2 separate regions of the Homo sapiens genome follow, and region 2 is linked to region 1. Evidence: fine-mapped expression QTL. Tissue or cell type: whole blood. Region 1 holds a variant in brackets; the other region holds the start of a gene. All regions are shown on one strand. Distances are from middle to middle.

Region 1 (5,637 bases):
AAAAAGAAAACATTATTTCAGCAAACATTTATTAAGCATCTACTGTGTACTAGGGTCGCTGGATAAAGCAGTTATCAAAACCAGTTTCCTGTTCCCATGGTGCTGACACTTAATTTAGAGACAGAGTCTCACTCTGTTGCCCAGGCTGGTCTTGAGCTGCTGGGCTCAAAAGATCCTCCCACCTCAGCCTCAGGAGGTGCTAGGATTACAGGCATGAGCCACCCCACCTGGCCTTGGTGCCGACACTTTAGTGAGATGGCAAGCAGGTAAACCAATAAATAACCAGCCAGGCATGGTGGCTCACGCCTGTAATCCCAGCACTTTGGGAGGCTGAGGTGGGCGGATCACCTGAGGTCAGGAGTTCGAGACCAGCCTGGGCAACATGGTGAAACCCTGTCTCTACTAAAAATACAAAAATTAGCTGGGCGTGGTGGTGTGCGCCTGTAATCCCAGCTACTTAGAAGGCTGAGGCAGGAGAATCGCTTGAACCCCAGGAGGCAGAGGTTGCAGTGAGCCAAGATCGCACCACTGCACTCCAGCCTGGGACAGAGCGAGACTCTGTCTAAAAAAAAATTAAATTAAATTAAAAAATAAACCAAATAAATAACTGAGTGTTTCGTTTTTGTCTTTTTGTTTTGTTGTTTTCTTTTGTTTTGAGAACTAGGTCTTGCTATGTTGCCCAGGCTGGTCTCAACTCCTGGCTCAAGCTATCCTCCCATCTATGCCTCCCTAAATACTGGATTTACAGGCGTGAGTCACTGCGCCTGCCAATAACAGAGTCTGCTTTTTTTTTTTTTTCCAGATAGTAAAAGTAGCTATTAGGTTAATACAATAGAGTGATGAGAAAAATACTAACTGGGGAGGGGCTATGTCAGGAATTTAGGGGGCAGCAACACAAAAGCTGAACCTCAGAAAGTAGGGAAGGCCGGGCGCGGTGGCTCACGCCTGTAATCCCAACACTTTGGGAGGCTGAGGCGGGCGGATCACTTGAGGTCAGGAGTTCCAGACCAGCCCGGCCAACATGGTGAAACCCCATCTCTACTAAAAATACAAATATTAGCTGGACGTGGTGGTGTGTGTCTGTAATCCCAGCTACTCGGGAGGCTGAGGCAGGAGAATTGCTTGAACCCAGGAGGCGGAGGTTGCAGTGAGTGTCACTGCACTCCAGCCTGGGACTCCGTCTCAAAAAACAAAAACAAAACAAAACAAAAAACAGTAGGGGAGCCTCAAAAAGTACCTACGTGTACAGGTGCAAGGGAAAGCATTTCAGGTAGGTGGAACAGCATGTGCAGAGGCCCTGCGGTGGGGAAGATCCGGGACCTGATACTTCACCCAGGCACTGCGAAATAAGTGCCAGTTATAGAAATCCCACCGGGTTACTCTTCTACTCATAGTTCTCCCATGGCTCCCTCGTGCCTGTGGATCAAATCCAAGCTCCTTGGCCCGGCGCTGGGCAGAGACTTGACCTCTGCTGGTGCAGAAATGCCGCCAGCCAGCGCTCGGCGACCGTCACTCCAGGGCCCGCCCTCAGTCACCACCCCTACATTCCAGGCCCCGCCTGCCTGTCCCACCCCACCGTCCCACTGGGCGGCTTGGAGAGCCTCGGGTGCTGGTTGGCTGGCGTGGCCGTCAGTTAGGGCGAAGGCCTTGATAATCAGTCCCCGGACTTCGAGGGGGCGGGCTCGGGTGCGGGCGCGGCTGGGGCTGCGGCTTCAGGTAAATTGCCAGCTTGCGGGGACACGGATGGGGGACCCCTGGGTGGGTGGATTCGGGGACGCACCGGGACCCGGCGCTGCGCTGCGTTTCCAGCCCCACTGAGGGCTCTGCCCGCTGCGACGGGGCGGGCGTCGTGTCCTCTGGCCGGGACCCCTCCCACATTGGAAGTCCCAGGTGGGTAGCGAGCAGAGTGGGGGGCTCTGGAGGCGTGGGCTTGCCCCCCTCTCGCCCTTCGGGAGCTCACTGCGGGGCTCGTTCGCTCCCTAATGCCACAACCGGCCCTGGGACCCTTTCCCGGGACGGCCTGGGGACCCCAGCCAGCCCCTCGCGCTGGGCTGGGTGTGGGAGCGTGTCACGGAAATGGTGTTTTGGGGAGGGACGCACGGCCCCCGGACCCGCAGACAATGGGTAGCGGATGGAACCGCCCGGCGGCGCTTCCTGTAGGAAACTGCTCTGTCTCTGTGCGGCTAGGACGACCTGGGGGTGGACGGGTGATGATGACTTTAACACCCACCTTCCTGCCGCCACCGGTCCCCCACCCACCCACCTCAAGAGTCTGAGAGTCCCAGCAGACATCAGGGGC[T/G]GCCAGTACTCAGGGCCTCCTGGAAGGCGCCCTCTCCCCAGGACTGGGATCCTCACTGGCCTGCCGTGGCCCCCACCACTCCGGTTTGGTGATCACAGCTCTGCGTCCCAAAATAGTCCCTGGGGCGGGAGAGGGGGCGTGTGGCGTCGGCTCTGACGGCCTAATGAGGGGGTCTCAGGCACAGAATCCGGATCTAGCTGTGACAGTCAGGGCAGGGAGCGGAGGAGAGGGAAGGCAGCTAAACGCCCCACTTAGTGAGGCCCCAGCCCCTGAAGCCGCAGAGGTGGTGGGCACCTCCGCCCCCAATCAGAGTCTGACACAGGTGTAGGCTGGGAGGGACAAGCCCCCTGAGGCTCCTTGGTGGTTCATGCCTGTTATCCCAGCACTTTGGGAGGTCAAGTAGGGCTGATCTCTTGAGGTCAGGAGTTTGAGACCAGACTGACCAACATGATGAAACCCGTCTCTACTAAAAATTCAAAAATTAGCCAGCTGTGGTGGCAAGTGCCTGTAATCCCAGCTACTCAGGATGCTGAGGCAGGAGAGTCGCTTGAACCCTGGGCTCAGAGGTTGCAGTGAGCCGAGATCCTGCCACTGCACTCCAGCCTGGGTGACAGAGACTCCGTCTCAAAAATAAAAATAAAAGAAAGCATTCAAGTGTAGTGGCCAAAGCAAGGACTCTGGAAGACCTGCCTGGGTTTAAAACCTGCCTCTGCCTGTTTATGACAGGACCCAGGCAGGACACTAAACTGTTCTGTGTCTCAGTTTCTCCATCTGTACAATAGGGGAAGGGACAATGATCATAGGAAATCCAACCTCAGTGGATTTAGCTAGGATTTTAAAAAATAAGTCAAGGTCAGGTGCAGTAGCTCATGCTTGTAATCCCAGCACTCTGGGAGGCTGAACTGGGAAGATTGCTTGAGCCCAGGAGTTGGAGGCCAGCCTGGGCAATATAGCAAGACACCTGTATCTACAAAAAATAAAATTAGGCCGGGCACGGCTCACGCCTGGTTTGAGACCAGCCTGGCCAACATGGTGAAACTCCGTCTCTACTAAAAATACAAAAATTAGCCAGGCATGGTGGTGCACACCTGTAATCCCAGCTGCTTGGGAGGCTGAGGCAGGAGAATCACTTGAACCCGGGAGGCGGAGATTGCAGTGAGCTGAGATTGTGCCACTGCACTCCAGCCTGGGCGACAGAGCATGACTCCATCTAAAACAAAAAACCAAAAAATTTAAAATATTAGCCTGAATTAGCCAGGTGTAGAGGTCCATTCCTGTAGTCTCAGCTATTTGTGAGGCTGAGGCGGATCACTTGAGCTCAGGGGTTCAAGGCCACAGTGAGCTATGATCGAGCCACTGACTCCAGCCTGGGTGACAGAGTGAGCGAGACATTGCCTCTAAAAAAAAAAAAAAAAAAAGTAAATATCCATAAATTCCTTAGACTAGAGGCTGGCCCATAGTAAATATCAAAAGCGTTGTTATTATTTGACATTCTGGAGGGATCCATTCCTTTCTTAGCCCAGCCTCTGGATCCAACTGCTTCAGCTAGTTTAGGTCTTAGGAATGGCCCACAGCTGTCTTCTGAGATCCCAGGGCCTGGGATTTGGGTGTGACCAGGTCACCGGAGGAGGACGCTGACCCCATTGCGTCATACGGCCAGCTGTGTGAGAAGTAGACCCAGACCCCCCAACCCTTGATCTGGACTTTTTCCACAACCCAGTTCTTCCCTGGCAATTTCCTGAAAACAAGTGATGAACGGCATTGGCTGTCCTCTGCGATGACCCGCTGGCCTGTTGATCCACCCCTTGCAGCTGGTGTGAAGGGACGGGAAACAGCTGCTTGGGGACTGGAAGAGGCCCCCTGCCTGGCCTTGGAGTGGGAAGGGAGAGGTCAGGGACCTCGGCCAGACAGAAGTGGGAAATGGAGTTACGGTTTCCCCAGCGGTGGAGTAGGGTAATGAGTCAGGAGGGCTGGTGGGTGCTCAGTGCTTCATAGCATCAGGCACACAGGTGGTCCCAGGGATTCGAGAAGCCAGAAGGGGTGGCTGGGAGTGTTGCCATGTGGTTAGCACAGACGGGCCGTGGCCCAGGGAGAGGATGAAGTGGGTTTGGCAGATGCCTGTCAGTGGAGGACTGGACAGGTAAAGGGCAGTCAGAAGCTGTGGCAGGGACCTGCTGACAAGGGTTCCGCAGATGGGCAGAGCCCAATCTGAGGGTGCTTCCCACAGGCAACTGATTTAATTGTTCTGTGCCTCAGTTTCTCCATCTGTAAAATATGAATAATAATACTACTTTGCAGTATGCAAAGTGTTGTATGGGGGCTGTGTGTGTGTGTGTGTGTGTGTGTGTGTATATATATATATATATGGTTTTTTTTTTTTGAGACGGAGTCTGGCTCTGTCCCCCAGGCTGGAGTGCAGTGGCATGATCTCAGCTCACTGCAACCTCTGCCTCCCAGGTTCAAGCGATTCTCCTGCCTCAGCCTCCTGAGTAGCTGGGACTACAGGCATGCACCATTGTGTCCAGCTATGGCGATGACATTTAATCAGGAAGGGCACACCGTAGGCACTTTCCCCTCCCTGAAGGTTTTCCATGTGGGCTTTCCAAAGCCCATCTTTCCCACTCCATGTTCCTGTGCTTTTCTTTTCTTTTCTTTTCTTTTTTTTTTTTTTTTTTTTTGAGACAAGGTCTTGCTCTGTCAACCAGGCTGGAATGCAGTGGCATGATCATAACTCACTGCAGCCTGCATCTCCTGGACTCAAGAGATACTCCTGCCTCAGCTTCTTGAGTAGCTGGGACTACAGGTGCATGCCAACACATCCAGCTAATTTTTGTGTTTTTTGTAGAGATGGGGTTTCGCTATTTTATTTATTTATTTAGAGACAGAGCTTCGCTCTTGTTGCCCAGGCTGGAGAGCAATGGCTTGTGAGCCACTGTGCTTGGTGGTTTCACTATTTAAAAACAAACAAACAAAAGAGATAGTGGCCAGGCACCTTGGCTCATGCCTGTAATCCCAGCACTTTGGGATGCCGAGGTGGGTGGATCACCTGAGGTCAGGAGTTCGAGACCAGCCTGGCCAACATGATGAAACCCTATCTCTACTAAAAATACAAAAAATTAGCCAGGTATAGTAGCAGTGGCTGTAATCCCAGCTACTCAGGAGGCTGAGGCAGGAGAATCACTTGAACCCAGGAGGCAGAGGTTGCAGTGAGCCAAGATTGTGCCACTGCACTCTAGCCTGGGCAACAAGAGGGAAATTCTGTCTCAAAAAAAAAAAAAAACAAAAAGAGATAGGGTCTCGCTATGTTGCGCAGGTGGGTCTTGACTCCTAGGCTCAAG
Region 2 (5,637 bases), 34 kb after region 1:
GGCAGATCAGGAAAGGCCTCCCTGAGCCAGAAACCATTATGCTGGGGCTGTGGGATGAGAATGAGTTAGCTCCAGAAGGAAGGCAGCTGGTTCCTGGGGAGGAGATAGAAATCTGGCTGCAGGAGCCAGAGTTTTCGCGCTTGTCACCCAGGCTGGAACGCAACGGCACGATCTCAGGTCACTGCAACCTCTGCCTCCTGGGCTCAAGCAATTCTGCCTCAGCCTCCCGAGTAGCTGGGACTACGGGTGTGCACCACCATACCCGCTAATTTTTTTTTTTTTTTGTAGAGATGGCCAGGCTGGTCTCAAATTCCTGACCTCAGGTGATCCGCCCGCCTTGGCCTCCCAAAGTGTTGGGATTACAGGTGTGAGCCACCACGCCTGGCCCCTGATTTTAAGCAATACCCAGCTTACTTGGATTTTGGGGTGAAGTCAGTGCTGAGTCTCCCAACTCTGTTGGCACTCCAGGGGTGGGACAGACACTGTCCCTGGGTGCAGAGGCCCTGGAGACAGCACTGCCCTTTCCCCCAAAGGCCAGGCTCTGACCTTGAGAGTGGTGGGAGTGGGTGATCCTTCTGGGAGGTTGGACTCCCAGGACCGCTGGCTGTTGGGGAGCATTGATTGTGAAGACCAGTCAGGTGGGGTAAGGGGTGTATGTGCGGACACTCAGTAGGCCAGCCACAGACTTCTCACTTCTTTTTTTTTTTTGAGACAGAGTTTCGCTCTTGTTGCCCAGGCTAGAGTACAATGGCGCGATCACGGCTCACTATAACCTCTGCCTCCTGGGTTCAAGTGATTCTCTTGCCTCAGCCTCCCGAGTAGCTGGGATTACAGGCGCCTGCCACAAGCCCAGCTAATTTTTGTATTTTTAGTAGAGACGGGGTTTCGCCATGTTGGCCAGGCTGGTCTCAAACTCCTGACCTCAAGTGATCCGCCCACCTCTGCCTCCCGAAGTGTTGGGATTACAGGCGTGAGCCACCGCGCCTGGCCTAACTTCCATCTCTTGAGGGCTCCCACAGCCACTTCTCACATGAACCTTCCTCAGCACCTTCCCACTGAGGCTCCTGCTTGACCATGGTCACCCTGCAGCTCAACGGGGAAGGCAGAGGACAGTAAGGGCTGCTCACAGGGAAGGCAAACCTAGGGCAGATCAGGAAAGGCCTCCCTGAGCCAGATCCCATTATGCTGGGGCTGTGGGATAAGAATGAATTCGCCCCAGAAGGAAGGCAGCTGGTTCCTGGGGAGGAGACAGAAATCTGCAAAGGGAGGGTGTCCAAGTCTGGCTGCAGGAGCCACCCAGTGACCCTACGCAGGGGAGTGTCATGGCTTCCCCAGGGCACAGCCCCAGACCCTTCAGCAGCTAAAAAAGATCAGCTGTGGACCAAGAGGGTGCTGAGACCGCCCTGCCCTCTGGAAGGGGAAAGGCCACGGCTACAGGCAGCAGGTACCAGTGTCCCAGAGTGGGTCCTACAAAGGCTAACACCTTCCTGGAGAAGGTGGGATTCTGCTTGGGGCAAAAGGATGAATCAGATTCAGAAAGGTCAGGAGGGAAGGAAAGACTAGGCAGGGTGTGCAGAGGCCACAAGGAGGGCAAGACCCTAGGCAAGGCATGCCGCTGACGGCATCTGAACCAAGTTTTATGACCACAACTTTTTTTTTTTTTTGAGACAGAGTCTCACTCTGTCACCCAGGCTGGAGTTCAATGATGTGGTCTCGGCGCACTGCAACCTCCGCCTCCCGGGTTCAAGCGATTCTCCCATCTCAGCCTCCCTAGTAGCTGGGACTACAGGAGCATGTTACCACACCCGGCTAATTTTTGTATTTTTGGTAGAGACGGGAGTTTTACTATGTTGGCCAGGCTGGTTTAGAACTCCTGACCTCGTGATCCGCCTGCCTCGGCCTCCCAAAGTGCTGGGGTTAACAGGCGTGAGCCAGCGCGCCGGCCAACTTTTCTAACAAATGGGGTCTCACTGTCACCCACGCTGGAGTGCAGCCCCAAGTGATTCTCCCACCTCAGCCTCCTGAGTAGCTGGGACTACAAATTAGAGCCACCATGCCCAGCTAATTTTCTTTTTTCTTGAGGCGGGCGGGGACTTGCTGTGTTGCCCAGGCTGATCTCGAACTCCTGGGCTCAAGCGATCTGCCCGCCTCTGCTTCCCAAAATGCTGGGATCACACACGTGACCCACCGCGCCCGGCCTTTATTATTAAATTTAATTAATTAATTGATTTCCTTTCCTTTTTCCCCCCCAAGCAACCCGACTCCGAGAATGGACGTTTCATTTATTCATTTACTCACCAAATGTTTACTAAGAGCCTACTATGAGTCAAGCACTATGTGTCAGATCCTGAGAATAAAGCAGTGAGCAACAGAAGATCCCTGCCCTCCAGTAGCTAGCATTCTATGGGGACTCGGACAACAAACCAGAATAAGTAAATAAAATAAATTACCTGTCGGCGCCACAAAAGCAGTGGGATGAGGGAGGAAATGCGGAGTGCCTGAGGGGCGTGGCTGCCATATTAAAGAAGATCACGAGGCAGTAACATTTGCAGCAGTCCTCATTTGGAACGGGAAATAATGCAAATGAACACCAACAAATTCCTTCCCATCCCCAGAAGTTTCTAACTTCAAGCGGGCTCCATACCTTTCAACTGATCTGGTCACTGGGGAAAGTGGGGACGGGCCTCTAATTCTCTTTTCCCTGCTATTCTGACATTTACGGTACGCGTAGCCGCGGGCGCCGCAGAACTCAGGGGCTTGGGCCCCGCCCCAACCCCGCGCGTGCGCGTGCGCAGGGATAAGAGAGCGGTCTGGACAGCGCGTGGCCGGCGCCGCTGTGGGGACAGCATGAGCGGCGGTTGGATGGCGCAGGTTGGAGCGTGGCGAACAGGGGCTCTGGGCCTGGCGCTGCTGCTGCTGCTCGGCCTCGGACTAGGCCTGGAGGCCGCCGCGAGCCCGCTTTCCACCCCGACCTCTGCCCAGGCCGCAGGTGAGTGACGCCCCGCAGCGCGGGCTCCCACCCCTCGCGAGGCTTCGCCCCGCCGCCGCGCACCGACAACGCCTAGTCACTGGCTGCACCGCACGTCAGTTCATGACACTCCCCCAGCACGTGGACTTGGACTTCATCGCTTGTGGGAAGGCGCGCACTGGTGCTAGGAAGACCCCATGCTGGGGGAGGGGAGGAGGGTGTCTCCACCTGCCTTTAACGGTTTTGCTCCGGCCCTGCACACCGTCTCCACACCTGCTGTGCCCTGTCGTCCCCCATTGTCACCTCCAAGCCGCCCTTCATACCAGCGTGGTCAGGAAAGCTCTTAGCAGGCTCAGATTGTCCGACCGCTAATCACGCAGGACGGGTCACCTGGTGCCTCTCGCACCTTTGCCTTCCAAACCCTCGCGCCCAGGCCTTGTGACCGTTCCGCAACCGTCCCTGCCCTCCCAGTCTCTCCTCCTTTGTCCTCCATCCTTAGAGAACGCGAGGTCTCTCCCCCCCATGCTACTGCAGGCTCTCGCAGAGACTGGGGTCACAAGTTGAATATACCCCCGTGGACGTGTTCGCCCTGGCCTAAGAGGTATTGGTGGCCAGTGGGGACGGGCTCCCTCTCTGATACCCCTAGAGGCAGCTGGAGGGTTGGAGTGGCCTCCCTGTGCACTCAGGCACTCCCAACTTGCAGCCCTGGGCTCAGGCTCACACACTTTCCCAGCTCCTTTGTGCATTCCGCACTTCTAGGTCCCTGGACTCATCCCAAAGTCCCTGACATTCACGTTAAATGTTCCTGGGTTTTTTTTTGTTTGTTTTTTTTTAAGGAGGCAGCGTTCACGTTAACCAAGTACAAAAGTTTTTGTTTTTTTTTTTTTGAGTCTCCCTCTGTCGCCCTGGCTGGAGTGCAGTGCAATGTTGGCTCACTGCACCCTCCGCCTCCCGGGTTTAAGCAATTCTCATGCCTCAGCCTCCCGAGTAGCTTGGGACTACAGGCACCGTCACCATGCCCGGCTAATTTTTGTATTTTTAGTAGAGATGGGGTTTCACCATGTTGGCCAGACTGGTCTCGAACTCCTGACCTCAAGTGTTCTGTCCGCCTCAGCCTCCCAAAGTGCTGGGATTACAGGACAAAACTCTATACACAGTCTCTTTTTTCTCAGGATGTTGAGGTAGGGATTCCCAGCATACCCCGTTTACAGGTGAGGAAACTGAGGCCAGGAGAGAAAGTCACTGGTCACTGTAACTCCTGTCAGGCTTACACCCTATGAGGCGGGGACTGCTGTGCTCTACTGTCCACTTTGCAGAGGGATACACACTCCCGCAGTCCAGCGAAGGGAGGTCAGAGGTGTCAGGGCTGTGGAAGTCTGCGCCTGGGTGGAGAGCCACACCTGGAGGCTGCCAGATCTCCCGGGGGCGGGGAAGGAAGCAGGCACCGGTTTGTCCACAGCTCTTCTGGGATCCATAGAGCTCAGGGACCCTGTGGCAAGTAGGTGCAATTAGGCCTGAAGGCCGAGGAGGGGCTGGCAGTGGGGAGTGGGGGGTTGGAGGCTCATGGCTGGTGGGTAAAGGTGGAAGAGGTTAAAGGCCTTGGCAGAGTGAAGCTAAGCCAGGGTGGCGGATTTGCCACCTCCCCTGGCCGCACCCAGGAGGAAGCCGTAAAGGCCACTCCCTTCCTCTGTCCCTTGGCCCAGGTTGCGGGCCCCTCCGTGCCCCTCCAGGTCGGCAAGCAGCTGAGCTTCCCTGCTCAGAATCTAGGACAGCCGGGATCTTCTCTGGACCCAGCTTGGACCCTTATGTGACCTGTGTCCACTTATAATCAGGCACTGCCCTGGGTTTAGGCGGCCAGGTCACAGCCCTGACCTCCACAGAATGTCCAGTCTGTGGGTGGACAGGCATGACCAGGGCTTTAAGGACAGTTGTTAGACATGGGAGGCAGTGCTTCCTAGGTCTCCAAGAGGGACATGAGAACCCTCCCAGGAAATCAGCTGAGATCTGAAAATTGAGGGGAAAACACAGGGTGTAGGGAGGAGAGAGGGAAAGGCAAGTCTCTGGTGTCCTAATGGACCTTGGGGCCTGGGGCCTGGGGCTCTGGTGAGGAGCTGACACATTTAGGATGGGGAGAGTGATAGGTCTGGGAGGAATTCAGGAGGCGGGGCAACAGGACTTGGTGACTGAGCAGATTTTCTACCCAGTGCCTCAGTTTCCCACCCACTGCCTCAGTTTCCCTTTTGCTACGCAGAGGAGATAGACCCTCCCTGCTGACCTGAGCCCGGGAGCCTGACCCAGGGCATGTGGAAAAATGGCCCGTCCCTCAGTCTCTTTAACCACTGAGTTTGGAGGTCTCCCTGGCAGATCATCTCGCTATGAGGAGCCTGGTGAAGACTCTGGGATCAGCGAGACCTGAGTTCGAAGCCCAACTCCGCTACCAGCTCTTTTTTTTTTCTTTTTTGTGGTGACGGAGTCTCGTTCTGTCGCCCAGGCTGGAGTGCAGCAGTATGATTTCGGTTCATTGCAACCTCCATCTCCCAGGTTTAAGCGATTCTCATGCTTCAGCCTCCCGAGTAGCTGGCATTACAGGCGTGCACTACCACGCCCGGCTAATTTTTGTATTTTTAACAGAGACGGGGTTTCCATGTAGGCCAGGCTGGTCTCGAACT

What was found. PIP is the estimated chance that this variant, and not a neighbour inherited with it, causes the effect.
Region 2: it holds the start of CD320, and the variant in region 1 is fine-mapped to the expression of CD320 in whole blood (INTERVAL, PIP 0.91).

What each region holds. Positions count from the first base shown.
Region 1 is chr19:8,339,304-8,344,940 of GRCh38, reverse strand. It overlaps KANK3 (KN motif and ankyrin repeat domains 3), which reads left to right and starts at 1,679. Exons shown (of 11, transcript NM_198471.3): 1 at 1,679-1,716. RefSeq lists enhancers at 1,445-2,236, 4,171-4,671. The variant T/G (reference allele first, on the strand shown) is at 2,300.
Region 2 is chr19:8,305,501-8,311,137 of GRCh38, reverse strand. It overlaps CD320 (CD320 molecule), which reads left to right and starts at 2,780. Exons shown (of 5, transcript NM_016579.4): 1 at 2,780-2,989. The coding sequence starts at 2,848. It also overlaps a transcript of NDUFA7 not described here. RefSeq lists enhancers at 1,952-2,481, 2,537-3,276, 3,161-3,290, 3,277-4,017 and silencers at 2,678-3,016, 2,991-3,080.